3 separate regions of the Homo sapiens genome follow, and regions 1 and 3 are each reported to be linked to region 2. The links are microRNA targets in miRTarBase. Many come from high-throughput screens and were not tested one by one. Region 2 holds a microRNA gene; each other region holds the end of a gene's coding sequence. Distances are between the middles of the regions.
What was found. Region 2 holds the annotated microRNA hsa-miR-4266 (CUAGGAGGCCUUGGCC, at 1,165-1,180, opposite strand). A microRNA usually pairs through its seed, bases 2 to 8, with sites in the 3' UTR of a target mRNA and lowers its output. Matches are read on the target gene's strand: a 7mer-m8 pairs with bases 2 to 8, a 7mer-A1 pairs with bases 2 to 7 and ends in A, and an 8mer does both.

Region 1: miRTarBase lists TYW5 as a target of hsa-miR-4266. The part of its 3' UTR that is shown has no 7-base or 8-base seed match.
Region 3: miRTarBase lists SLC25A34 as a target of hsa-miR-4266. Seed matches in the 3' UTR shown: 7mer-m8 at 2,421-2,427.

What each region holds. Positions count from the first base shown.
Region 1 is chr2:199,929,504-199,933,607 of GRCh38, forward strand. It overlaps TYW5 (tRNA-yW synthesizing protein 5), which reads right to left. Exons shown (of 8, transcript NM_001039693.3): 8 at 1-3,820. The coding sequence ends at 3,564. Among named protein-coding and RNA genes, the nearest start is that of C2orf69, 20 kb to the left of the region's middle.
Region 2 is chr2:109,312,417-109,316,537 of GRCh38, forward strand. It overlaps MIR4266 (microRNA 4266), which reads right to left and starts at 1,209; the gene lies at 1,155-1,209. The region is part of intron 1 of SH3RF3 (SH3 domain containing ring finger 3); the gene reads left to right. It also overlaps a transcript of RANBP2 not described here.
Region 3 is chr1:15,738,671-15,742,791 of GRCh38, reverse strand. SLC25A34 (solute carrier family 25 member 34) reads right to left here. Exons shown (of 5, transcript NM_207348.3): 4 at 4,064-4,121; 5 at 1,400-3,568. The coding sequence ends at 3,386. It overlaps TMEM82 (transmembrane protein 82), which reads right to left and starts at 293. Exons shown (of 6, transcript NM_001013641.3): 1 at 145-293. The coding sequence starts at 232. SLC25A34-AS1 (SLC25A34 and TMEM82 antisense RNA 1) reads left to right here. Exons shown (of 2, transcript NR_149050.1): 2 at 2,570-2,741. RefSeq lists enhancers at 1-712, 1,114-1,183.

The sequences.
Region 1 (4,104 bases), 91 Mb from region 2:
CACAGCAGCACAGTTCCAATTCCATCCAGGCCTGCCTTCCAGCTTCCTGCATTTTTTTTTTTTTTTTTTTGTCAACTCCTTTGATGTCTGTTGGCAACTTTTTATAGGTGATAGAAAAGCCGCCTTACTAAGGTTCTTTCCAAATGTTCACATAGCTGCTGTTCAAAAGGATGAAGGATACAAATTAAGTTTTGTTGACTTTGTTTCCTTTGTTTTGGTATTTTATCAAAGTGAGTTAGAAATTAATTACAGGACAAATAGAATTCTAATGTATTCAAATACCAAGACAAATAATGTTATGAAATGCTAATAATTACACTCTGTTTAGTTTTTTTTTTTGAGACAGGTCTCCCCATGTTGCCCAGACTGAACTTGAACTCCTGGCTTCAAGCACTCCTCCTGCCTCAGCCTCCCAAGATGCTGGGACTACAGGTGTGGACCACCACTCCCCAGCTCTGCATATAATATTTTTTTTTTTTTTTTTTTTTTTGAGACAGGGTCTCACTCTGTCACCCAGGCTGGAGTGCAGTTGCACAATTCCAGCTCACTGCAACCTGCACCTCCCAGGCTCAAGTGATCCTCCTATCTTAGCCTCCTGAGTAGCTGGGACTACAGGCGCACACCACCACAGCCAGCTAATTCTCTGTATTTTTGGTAGAGACAAGGTTTCGCCATGTTGCCCAGGCTGGTCTCGAACTCCTGAGTTCAGATGATCCACCCACCTCGGTGCATATAGTATTTTTAAAATGTATTTTGAAAGGATAATGTGAACAAAAGTCCAAATAATACAAAACTAGATTCTAAGCAGCCCACCTAGTTGAACCTCTTCTTGGAGGCATAATTATCACTGGTTTCTCGTGCATCCTTAGAGATAATTATATGCATATGCAAATAAGATGTTCACACACCACATACCTTGTTTTACACAAATGGCAGTACAGTTTCAAATATGTTTTTCATGTAACATTTAATTTTTCTATTTTTAGTAGAGACGGGGTTTTACCATGTTGGCCAGAATGGTCTTGATCTGACCTCGTGATCTGCCCACCTCGGCCTCCCAAAGTGCTGGGATTACAGGCATGAGCCATGGCACCTGACCCACCATTACTTTTATTTTGAATCTTGTCTGTGTAGCAAGCAGTGCAGTGAGAAATTTTGTTGGCAGAGGAAAAAAATTCCTTTTTGCATCAGGTCAAGCCCCCAAACTAGCCAAAGAAAAGCTGTGTAATCTATTCAGAAGTACTGGAGATGTGCTGCACATTAGGGAGAATGGAGAATTACTGGTCACAACGAATCCCGGTTTCTATCACCCATAGCTATGTGAACCCAGACAATCATTAAGCAATCTGGGTTGGTTAGATGGCTTCTAAGATCTCTTTCAATAAAAAAGTTCTAAGATTCAGAATTCCTGAGAAGTTGCAGCTAACATACACTGTATAAGATTTTATACATTAAAAACAAACATCTCATTTGGTCTTAACCCAGTAGGAAGAAAAGATTAAAATATTTTGTATTTGAAATAAACAGACCCTAATATTAATTATGACCAGGGAAATAATTTTAAAACATCCCAAAGGAAAGTTCTCTAACTTTTAAAATATTATAAATTAATACTGCAACAGGAGCTACCTCAAATCTCTCAACAAAGATGGAATATAATTAAATAGAAGAACTAGCACCAGTTATCAACTATGTGCCTGCCCTTGAACTCTCTGCATTTTTGTAGTTCTGTTTTAAAGATGAGGAAAATAAGCTTCATAGATAAATGTTATTTTGTCTAAGGTCATCCAGTTTGCTTCTCCATTAAACAATCAATTAAGATGACTATTCAGTGCACAAACTGTAATCTGTTTTATTAATACTTCCAAGTTTTCTACATGACTCTGGATTTATACTTTGTATCAATTCTCTTGCTGGTTAAGAAAAAAAACAAGATTTATTAAAAACTGACCATAAATAATGTGTAAACTAAGGAGAGTTTTGTCTTTTTCCTTACTGAAGGACAAGGAATCAGTAAAGAAGTTCTTTGCTTTGCTTAATGAAGATCAAAACCTGGTAATTAAATTTGGCTAATATAATCATTCCTTTTCTGACAAGACTTTTTTCACCTTTATTCACCTGAGTAACTTACCTGTTTCCAAAGACACCTAGGAAATTCAGAATGTTATATATGCTTTTCCTTATTTACTATAATTTATAGGACATGAGTGGATGGATTCTCTTCAATAGAGAAAATGATTTTCTCTAATTAAAATGCACCAAATTGATGTACTAAGAGATTGCTTTAGATGAACACATTTATGTTCAGTGAAGATTATGTGGTCTTCAATGACACTGCAATATAATTACTAGGTACAAAACAAAAGCAGAGATCCACACACAATGGCTCACTGTCTTCGATGACAACACTTTTAGGATCTCATTTATTCATTCTTTAAGTAATTTTTCTTTTAAAAAAGGGATAGGTGGAAAAAATAGTTGGGAAATCTTTAACTAGGCTAAGGTTTAGACATAGGTATAAATTATTTATTTTGTAACATTCAAAAACCAAAAACCACCCTGACATACTGGGTGGCAAGAAAAGTCAAGATCAGATTAAACATTTGTTTTGCACTAATCACAAAACTAATAATCCAAGTCACTATCATCAACTCCAGTTGATCTCAGCTCTGATTATGCATCAGAACACCCTGTGAGGTCTATTAAGTTCCTATACCAAATCCCAAACACTCTTGAATCAGTCTACAAAGTTGGGACCTAGGTATCTGTACATTTTTTAAAGTTCCTCAAAAAATTCTGCTTCTAGGCAAATGTAATAGATATTGTGCGTTGCTCATGTTTTTCCTATCAGAACCATGATTTTAAAAAAACTATCCTTTCTGTCCCCATATATCCCTCATGTGGCCTCCACTTCTACTCTCAGCTCCAGTGGACCTGACTGCCCTAAAGGTTATTCTAGACCCTTTGCCAGTGACTGGCTCAGGGATGGACAGGTCTAAGTTACTTTAGAGCAATGAGACCTAAGGATATGGAAAGTGAATTCTGGGAAAGCTTTCTCATACTAGGACAGGGCCCCTAGAATCCAGCCTGACTCTTCCGCTGCATGTAAATGAAGATGCACAAGGCTCCAACTGCTACTGGCAATCATCCCATGACCACGAGGGTAGCCAGCCTTAGGATGATGCCAATGTTGTGGTTGAAAAGGGGGTGGGGTGTGGAGGCGGGTTCCCAAGGTTCTTGATGACATTACTGAATCATTGGATCAGAAACACTGCAGCACATTCTGTCAATAGATTTCATGTATTGTGAATCAATATATTTTCTTACTGTTTTTAAGTCATTTTAAGTTGGACTTTTAGTGGTCAGCATCTGAATGTTAAAGAGTGGTCCCAGCACAGCATTCTTTAATTATAACAATCTGTATCAAGTAGAATCCACACAAACACCCCTTCGTACTTACATAATCTGTAAATCTGATGTATCTTTCCTATTTTAACAAAATCTTTAATTTATATCGTTATACCTTACTAAAGTGTTAATGTGCATTGCATTCACTTCATTATTTACTCAGAGTTCTTGCTGTAGGCTTTGTCTTGAATGTGTAGGACCATTCGTCGTGCATAGAAGTCCCTATATTCCTCTGGTAACTCGGCCAGTGTTTTCAAGGCTCTGTCCAGAATTTGTGCAGCTCTTGATGCTGCTGTAGGATCTTTGTTTCCATAGGTATCTGTTTTATCATAGCATTCAGATGGAAGGTGCTTCCAAAAGATATTCACTCCCACTCCAAACTCTTCAGAAATTACATTATGGAACCATAAAGCTGGAGAAAGTTTAAAAAACAAGTTAAAAATAAAACCTACAGTTAAAAAAAAACCCAAAATGTCAGTGAAATATCACGAATTGCATATAGCCAATGTAAGAAATAATTCTTGTAACCAGATCCCTTCGTTAGCACACTCCAGGCTTTTAACAGAATCATTTTAACTTTTATGAATTGCCAACAAATTTAAAGTGTCAATAGCACAACCCTTACTTTTAAAACCTTTAGAAATAGCAATTTTTCCTTTAAACTTGAAAGACATAATAAAGATATATTTGTTTTGC
Region 2 (4,121 bases):
TTTATTATATTAATGATGTTTCGACCGTCAGCACTGTCTAGTTCCAGAAGTTTCCTTTTGGGAAGTTTTCATCTCCCCAAAAGGAAACTCTCTACCCATCAGCAGCCACCCCGCTGGGCCCCTTCTTCCTGGCCCCAGGCCACCACAACCTGCTTTCTTTCTCTGTGAATTTGCCCACTCTGGAGATTTGATATAAGTGGAATCATCCGATACATGGCCCTTTGGTCTAGCTTCTTTTACTTCGTATTTTCGAAGTTCATCCAGGATCATAGAGTATATCAGAATTCCATTCCCCTCTATAGCTGAAGAATGTCCCACTGTATGGTATTTCCACATTTTGTTTATCCATTCATCTGCTGACGGACATTGGGCTGTTTCCACCTTTTGGCTCTTGTGGGTAGAGCTGCACTTAACATTTGGGTACAAACATTTGCTTGAACACCTGTCTTAGATTTTGGGTGTATACCTAGGAATGGACTTGCTGGGTCACGTGGTCATCCTAGGTGTACGTTATTGAAGAGCCGCCCTATGTTTTCCACAGCAGCCCTTGGATTTCACTTTTATCTACAGTAATGCGGAAGAAGGGGGCTGATTTGTGACAGGTGGGCAAATCTGCAGTGTTAAGAAGAGGCAGGAGACAGGGAACCCATGCAATCCACATACTTCAGAGGCAGGTGGTGCTCCTGGCTCACACTGTAGGTAATATTTGCCCTGTGCCTGTCAGCTTCATCTGTGTGCATGGGCTGAGCTGGGAAGAACCAGGGGACCTGGAAAGGGGTTAGGGAGCTTGTCTATGCCAGCATCCTTGACACCGGCATGATATCAGGATCCCTATTCCTCTTCACAAGGCCCAGGCCTTACCCCAAACCTGCTGTACATCCATCCCAAGGGGGGAGGCTGGCATCTGTGTTTCTTGCTGCATTTATTTAAATGCAGTTCAGCCTAATGCACAGCCCGGGATGAGACTGCAGGTGAAGTGTCATATTTTAAGATGTGCTCATGAGAGGCATGGATACAAGGCCAGGCCTCCCTGGCTGACATTTGGGTGCTTGCCATGGGCCAGGCCCTGCCCTCCTTGCTGGGTGAGCGCTGTACCAGTTGGTCATCGCAATGGTCTTAAGCATCACTGAGGAAGACATTGAGGCCCAGATAGGGACTGTCCTTGGCCAAGGCCTCCTAGCCTTGAGTAGGGGCCCCGGCCAGCAGTGGGGCTCACTGCCTCTCAGGCTCAACATCCCAGGGGGATGGGAAGAAAACATTCTGGGAGATGAGTGGAGAGAGACTGATTCTCTGTAGGTGATGGCATGTGCCTTGAGCTGAAAGGTGCTTCCGGTTTCTTTGTAGCGATGGGGTCAGCTGCTCCAGGCAGCTGTGGCAGCATGAGTGAAACAGAGGGGCTTATTCCAGTGCATGTGGGGGAGAGGAGGGAGGTGGGCTCAGCCAGAGCAGAGGGATTTGAAGAGTGGCAGTGGAGGAGATATTTGAAAGGTGTGTTGGGACCCGTATGCAGGGTGCCGTGTTTGGACTTTGTTTTGTAGGGCACAAGACAGTTGAAGGCTTTGGAACTGGGAGGAAAGTGACAAGAAGGAGTACCAGGCTGTGGGACACTGGACACTGAGAAAAGGAAGAGGCTATGGGGGAAGAGAGGGGCCGTGAGACCCGGGGCAAGTGTGGACTTGGGGGACACAGTAGCGGAAAGCAGCAGGCCTGGGCAGTCACCTAACTGCAGGTGCCAAGGTCGTGGTCTGTGTCCCGGGAGACCAGCGGGTGGGTGTCCAGAGATGGGGGCACCAGAACCATGTGGGTCATGTATATTTAATGCTGCCTGCTTGAGAAAGCAGGGGCTTGGCATATGTTTTAGGAGAAAGTTTTATTTCTTGAAATGGTTAAACTGATAAATCCTCAGTTATCCCAAAGGCTCAGGGTTCCAGAAAATGGCTCCGTTGAAGGGTGAATCCCATAGATCTTATAAGAGTGATTGTAACCCTGCCTTGGTATAGCCAGGGAGCAGAGATAGAGGGTAGGAACCAGATTGCCCTGGGGAAAGCAGGTCAGCCTGAAACGGCATGACCTTTGATGTCACCTCCGTGCAGGAATGAATTTCTCTACCATATGAATAGCACCATCAACTAATACATTTTTATTATTCCTGCCACTTCATAAATAGTGTCTCCATCTTAATTTGCATGTGTCTGTCACTCTCCATGGTCTTTAAAGGTTTGTATAAACTTGTAAATTAATCCTCCTTTACATGCATAAGGCAAACCAGCTCCTTGATGAAACCTTTGATGAATCTTTTTACAAGTGCATAATATCCACCAGCCAATTTCTTATTCTGTAAATTATTTTGCCATTTTGGTTTTGTTTAATTTAGGGTGTGACAGTACTGGCATCATATTTCTGTCTAGTGAATAGGAGAATCAGACCACCAAAATATTAGAGGAGACCCTCTGAGTTGGTAGAGATTGAAGCAGAGCTAAGCCCTCGCTGGTGACCAAAAGAAACTTCGTCTCCCCGTATGAATCTCATTCTTGGCAAAGCCCACAGTTTGAGAACCCCCAGCAGGCATTCCAGAGCTGCACTGTCCCATAAGGTAGCCACCGACCACACTCAGTGAACAGCGACCACATTGAAGAGCCCATACACGACACGTTTCCATCAGTGCAGAAAGTTCCACTGGACAGCACTGCTCCACAATAATGAAGAAAAAGGAAACCTGTTTTACTTTACTGAGTATAATTAGCAGAAAGTCTTATTTGATGACTTTTCTCTGGGTCCCCCTTGTCAAGTGTGAGTCCTCTGAGTGGAGAGGGCTATAGTCTCTCCATAGTAAGGCAGAAAGACGTGCCCACTGGGAAACACCCAGCAATTTAATAGGGCCCTGGGTCCAACACCAACTTGGAGTTCTTAACTAATGCCAAGCCAGGTAAAGTGCTTTGTTCATTGAGTCTTGCAACTCCATTAGTGATTCAAAACAAAGTAAACCTCTGTCCCTATCTCTGTAGGATAGTTGCAGGGAAGCAATAGCTTGTGTCTGTAGAATGCACTTGCTTTTACTAAGAGGCAGTAAGGAACTGTCTCAGTATGAAAATGTGCATATACAGAACGACCATCCGTTTTTGGTGTAAGCAAAGGGGACCATGTGTGCCTGTTGTGCACTGTCTGTGCAGAACTTTCAGAAACTGTCAGTGATGCACAAGGACGTGTGTGTCCAGAGAAGAGACGCCTGTGCAGGCTTTCCTGGCAGTCTATAAAGGGGCGAGCTCTGTCTCAGTCCAGGCTTTCCCACCCAGGGTTCCTCTGGGGCTCTTTCATCTCATTATGTCTGGCTATTGTGACATTTAGAGTATTCAGGTGAATGCCGGTTGCTGCCTTGGTGTGGAAGGGACGTCGTCGCTTTTCCACCCTAGAATGACCTTTGATCTTACCTGTCAGGACGTGATCTAGGCATCAAAGCCACCAGTTCCCAGAACGTCACCTGCGACCAGCATAGGTCTGTGTCTCTGGGTTGTTTTGGAGAATATGGAGCCTTTTGAGATGCATTAGCAGAAGTCTTTTTGGTCTGACTGTGTGAGATTATATGTGCATGCATCAGGGGCTTTTTTCACCCAAATTGCAAAGATTCCCAGTATTTAGAGATTAGATGTGGTTAGAAAAGTGCATTTCCAGTATGCAATTGTAAAGCAGGAAAAACCTAAAGCTTTCAAAAAGAGAGGGCAAGGCAGGCTGGAGGAGGTGTTCAGAGCTGGTTTTGCTGAACTTTTGGGCCTGGGGAAGGTTCCACCAGTGTCCTGGCTCTTGGGCTTCATCTCTCGCAGCAGATCTGCACAGCTCCAACTGGGCTATCAGTGCTGTGGGCCTCGGTCCAGGAGGCTGGGTGGATGCTGGGAAGGGGATGGAGGGAGGACATGTTGCCAGGTGATGGTGGCTGGCTCTACATGCCCCTGCTCCTGGAGAAGCCCTGGTGCCATGTTTCTCCCTGGCTCTGGCTTCCTGTCTATCACAGGAGGAACACAGGTGTGATGTCAGTGTGATCTTCACTACACACAGCCTTTAACAAGGTAGCCCATGACATGGAGAGAACTTATCACTCCTCTTAGAGATTTCCTCTGCTTTTCTGT
Region 3 (4,121 bases), not on the chromosome of region 2:
TTAGGAGGGCAGGCTTCATTGGTAGGGTCAGAGGGGGCGGCCAAGGGGCAGGGGTGTCGGGAGACCAGGTGGGTGGGGTCCACCCTGCACTGCAAAGAGCTGGAAGGGGGCGGGGCCAAGGCAGGAATGGGGCGAGGTGCTCACCTTGCAGGAGGGAGTCAAGGAGGCTAGAGCCCCACTCGAGGGAGGGGAGGCCGGGGAGCCAGGAGGGGAGGGATGGAAGAGAGAACATGGCAGCCCCGGAAGGAGCCCCAGCCTCCGGCCAGGTCTGCGTAAGGACAGACCAACGTCACTGGGCAAAGGTGTCGGTGGAGGGAAGGAGAGAGGCTGGGAGGGGTCAAAGGCCCAGGGGAGGGGAGGGGAGGAGAGCCAGGGGTGTTAACCCTTCGAGGCCCAGAAGGGCAAGGTCCCAGCTCCAGGCACACGGGGTGCCTGGAGCCAGCTGCTGCCCGGGCTCCCCATTTGGGCAGTGTGGGGTGAAGGGACAGGTGTCTCTGGGCTGGTCTCTGGTCTCTGTCCCTGCTAAAGTCTGGCATCCACTTTACTTGAAATCTTCCTTGAGGGAGGACAGGCGCAGTGGCTTACACTTGTAATCCCAGCACTTTGGGAGGCCAAGGTGGGCAGATCACAAGGTCAGGAGTTCGAGACCAGCCTGACCAATATGGTAAAACTCTGTCTCTACTAAAAATACAAAAAATTAGCCGGGCGTGGTGGCAGGCACCTGTAATCCCAGCTACTCGGGAGGCTGAGGCAGGAGAATGGCTTGAACCCAGGAGGCGGAGGTTGCAGTGAGCTGAGATCACACCATTGCACTCCAGCCTGGGCAACAGAGCAACACTCTGTCTAAAAAAAAAAAAAAAAAAAAAAAATAGCAATCTTCCTTGAGGGCTTGAACCACCCAATGCCCCTTCGAAGTCCCAGGCTCCATCTGTCCTGCCCCGCCTTAGGTGTGGGTCCTGTCCTCTTGCAGCCTGAAGTGTGGGCTCTGACCCTTCAGCCCAGGGTCTGAGAGTAGGGACTCTATCCCCCCATAGCCAGAGATCAGCTGTGCCCTCTCAGCCTGAGGTCTGGGGCTCTCTTCCCCCACAGCCAGGAGGTCAGCTCTGCCTGCTTTTTGTAAGGTCTGGTTCCAGCTTCCCAAAGCCTCCGGCTCTGACTCGGTGTGGAATCTCCTGCAGCCCGAGCCTGCCTGAGCCTTCTCCTCCCACAGGCCGGGGCCGCCCTTCCTGATGCTCCTCCCTGGGTCCACTAGGTGGCAGGCCTCACCTGGGTCCAGCAGGGCGGAGCTGAACAGGTGGACCACGGCTCCCATCCTGCTTTCACAAACAGAAAGGGCAGAGGGAGCAGAAGGTGGGGGTCAGGGATGGGGGAGACTGAGATTCACCACAGAGGAGGGTCGTTGAAGTAAACAAAATATAAAACTTTATTGGTTTGGAGTGTGCAGTAGCAGGTGTTCCTGGGAGCGGCCCTTACAGACTTGGGGTGTGGCTGGGAGGGCAGGTGGGGCTGCTCGGCAGCAGTCCTGCCCCTGCCAGGGAGTTGGCATCCATCTCTGCAGTGTGAAGGTCGGTGCGGCGCTGAGAGCACACCCACGGGGAATGGTGCTCAGTCTAGAGAAAGGCCCAGGGTCTGCTGCTGGCCCTGCCACGTCGCTTCCCTTTCCCGGGCCTCAGTCCCGGGAACAATGGGCACCTGGACTGAACAATGGGCACCCGGAGCTTCTTTCAGGCTTGTCAGGATATGTGCAAATGCCCACAGGGCGGGCAGCTGGGAGGCCCTCCGTGAGAGCCCTTAGATGATGTTGGCTGAGGCCAGGCGCGGTGGCTCACGCCTGTAATCCCAGCATTTTGGGAGGCCGAGGCGGGCGGCAAGGTCAGGCATTCAAGACCAGCCTGGCCAACACAGCGAAAGCCTGTCTCTACTAAAAATACAAAATTAGCTGGGCATGGTGGCGCACACCTATAGTCCCAGCAACTCGGGAGGCTGAGGCAGGAGAATCACTTGAACCTGGGAGGTGGAGGTTGTGGTGAGCCGAGATTGCACCACCGCACTCCAGCCTGGGCAACAAAGCGAGACTCCATCTCAAAAAAAAAGATGATGTTGGCTGAACTGCGGCCCCTGCAGAAGTGCATGTTGAAGTCCTACCCCCTAGTAGCTCAGGATGTGACTGTATATGGAGATAGGCTCTTGACAGAGATAATTAAGTTAAAATTGGGCCAAGTGAGGTGGCTCATGCCTGTAATCCCAGCACTTTGGGAGGCCAAGGCCAGTGGATCACTTGAGGTCAGGAGTTCGAGACCAGTCTGGCCAACATGGCAAAACCCCATCTCTACTAAAGATACAAAAATTGGCCGGGTGTGGTGGCACACACCTGTAATCCCAGCTACTCAGGAGGCTGGGGCAGGAGAATTGCTTGAACCTAGGAGGCCAAGGTTGCAGTGAACCGAGATCGTGCCACTGCACTCCAGCTTGGGTGGCAGAGTGAGACTTCATCTCAAAAAAAAAAAAAAAAATTAAAGTGGGGTCATGAGGGTGGGCCCTAAGCCAACATGATTTGTGTCCTTATAAGAGGAGGAGATCAGGACCCAGACGCACATCGAGGGACCACCATGTGCAGACACAGAGAGAAAGCAGCATCTGCAAGCCATGGACAGAGGCCTCAGAAGAAACCAGCCCACTGACACCTTGGTCTCCAGCATCCAGCCTCCAGAACTGTGAGAAAATACATTTCTATTGTCTAAGTCGCCCAGTCTGTGGTTCTTTGCTACAGCTTCTCCAGCAAATAAGGCAGGTGACGACGCCACAGCCTCCTGGTGCACCTCAGCCTTTGCCATGGTACAGTGACCCCTATGGGCAGTCCGGGCCCATGGGCCTGTCACAGTCACGCACTTGTCAAGCGCATAGGTCTAGGGTGAGCAGGGCTAAGCTCCAGTCCTGGCTCTGCCACTTCAAAATTGTGTGGCTGTGGTCAAAGCCCACCACTCTAGGCCTTGGCTTTCTAATGGTAAAAGAAGTAAAAGTGCCTGCCTCGTGCTGCTGTCTGAGGCCTAAGTGAGCCGATGTATGTAAGTTACTGGGCCTATGCCATGTGCACGCCCGCAGCAGTTGCTATAACTGAGCAAGGCTCTGGGATGTGGTGACCCAGTACGCAGTACAGAGAAGGAAGAGAACTGTCTGGAAGACAGAATGGGTGGTAACTTGAAGTGGATGCTCTGGACCTGGGTGGGCCAAGGGGCTGGATGGACCAGAGCTGTCCACACTCTCCCGGGACCTCTGGCAGGGCCTGGGCCCATGGCCCGCCCCGGGACAGCCAGTTGTCCTGGAGCAGGCTCTCACTTCCGGCCAAGTGCCGGCCGTGTCAGGACGTGGGGGTGAGGGCCGTCGTCTAGGTGCCCTTGTGCTGGGCCCGCCCAGCCAGTTTCCGAAGCTCGTCCCAGAAGAGCATGCTGAGGATGGTGTGGGGGCCCAGGCGCAGGTAGGCGGGGCCCAGGCCCTTGTAGAGTGCCAGGGGGCCCTCCTGCCGCCAGATCTTCACCATGCAGTCGGTGAGGCCCCCATAGAGCTGGCCCTGGGGAAAGACATGGGGTGAGTGTTACTACAGGGGCCTTGAGGCCCTGGCTGGCACCACATCTTGGCACACGGGTCAATTTCACCCCCACACACCCTATGGACAGCACCTTTGTATTGGACACACCTGTGAGGCTGCGGCGCCATGGGAAGGCTGTGGGGTCAGGCCTGAATTCCAGTTCTGGCTCCTCCCCTTACCAGCTGGGGGAACTCATGCAAGTCAGTTGATCTGTCTGAGCCTCAGCTTCCTCATCAGGAAGATGAATGTGATTATAAGGATGGAATAAAATCCAGATGTGAAAGTGCTTAGCCTGTGCCTGGGACCCGGGGGCTCAGCAAACAAGCCCAGTTAATGTGTTTGCATACCTGGCCTGTGTCTGCGTGTCTCTGGCTGTGCATGTGTGAGTGTGAGTGTGTGAGAGTGTGTGTGTGTGTGTGTGTGTTGGGGGGGTGCTCCCAGCTCCCCACGGTCTCCCCTAGACCCGCCCCTGCTCACCCTGCCAGCTGTGTCCACCGGCTGATTGTATAGCCGCGTGCTGACCACATCGAAGGGA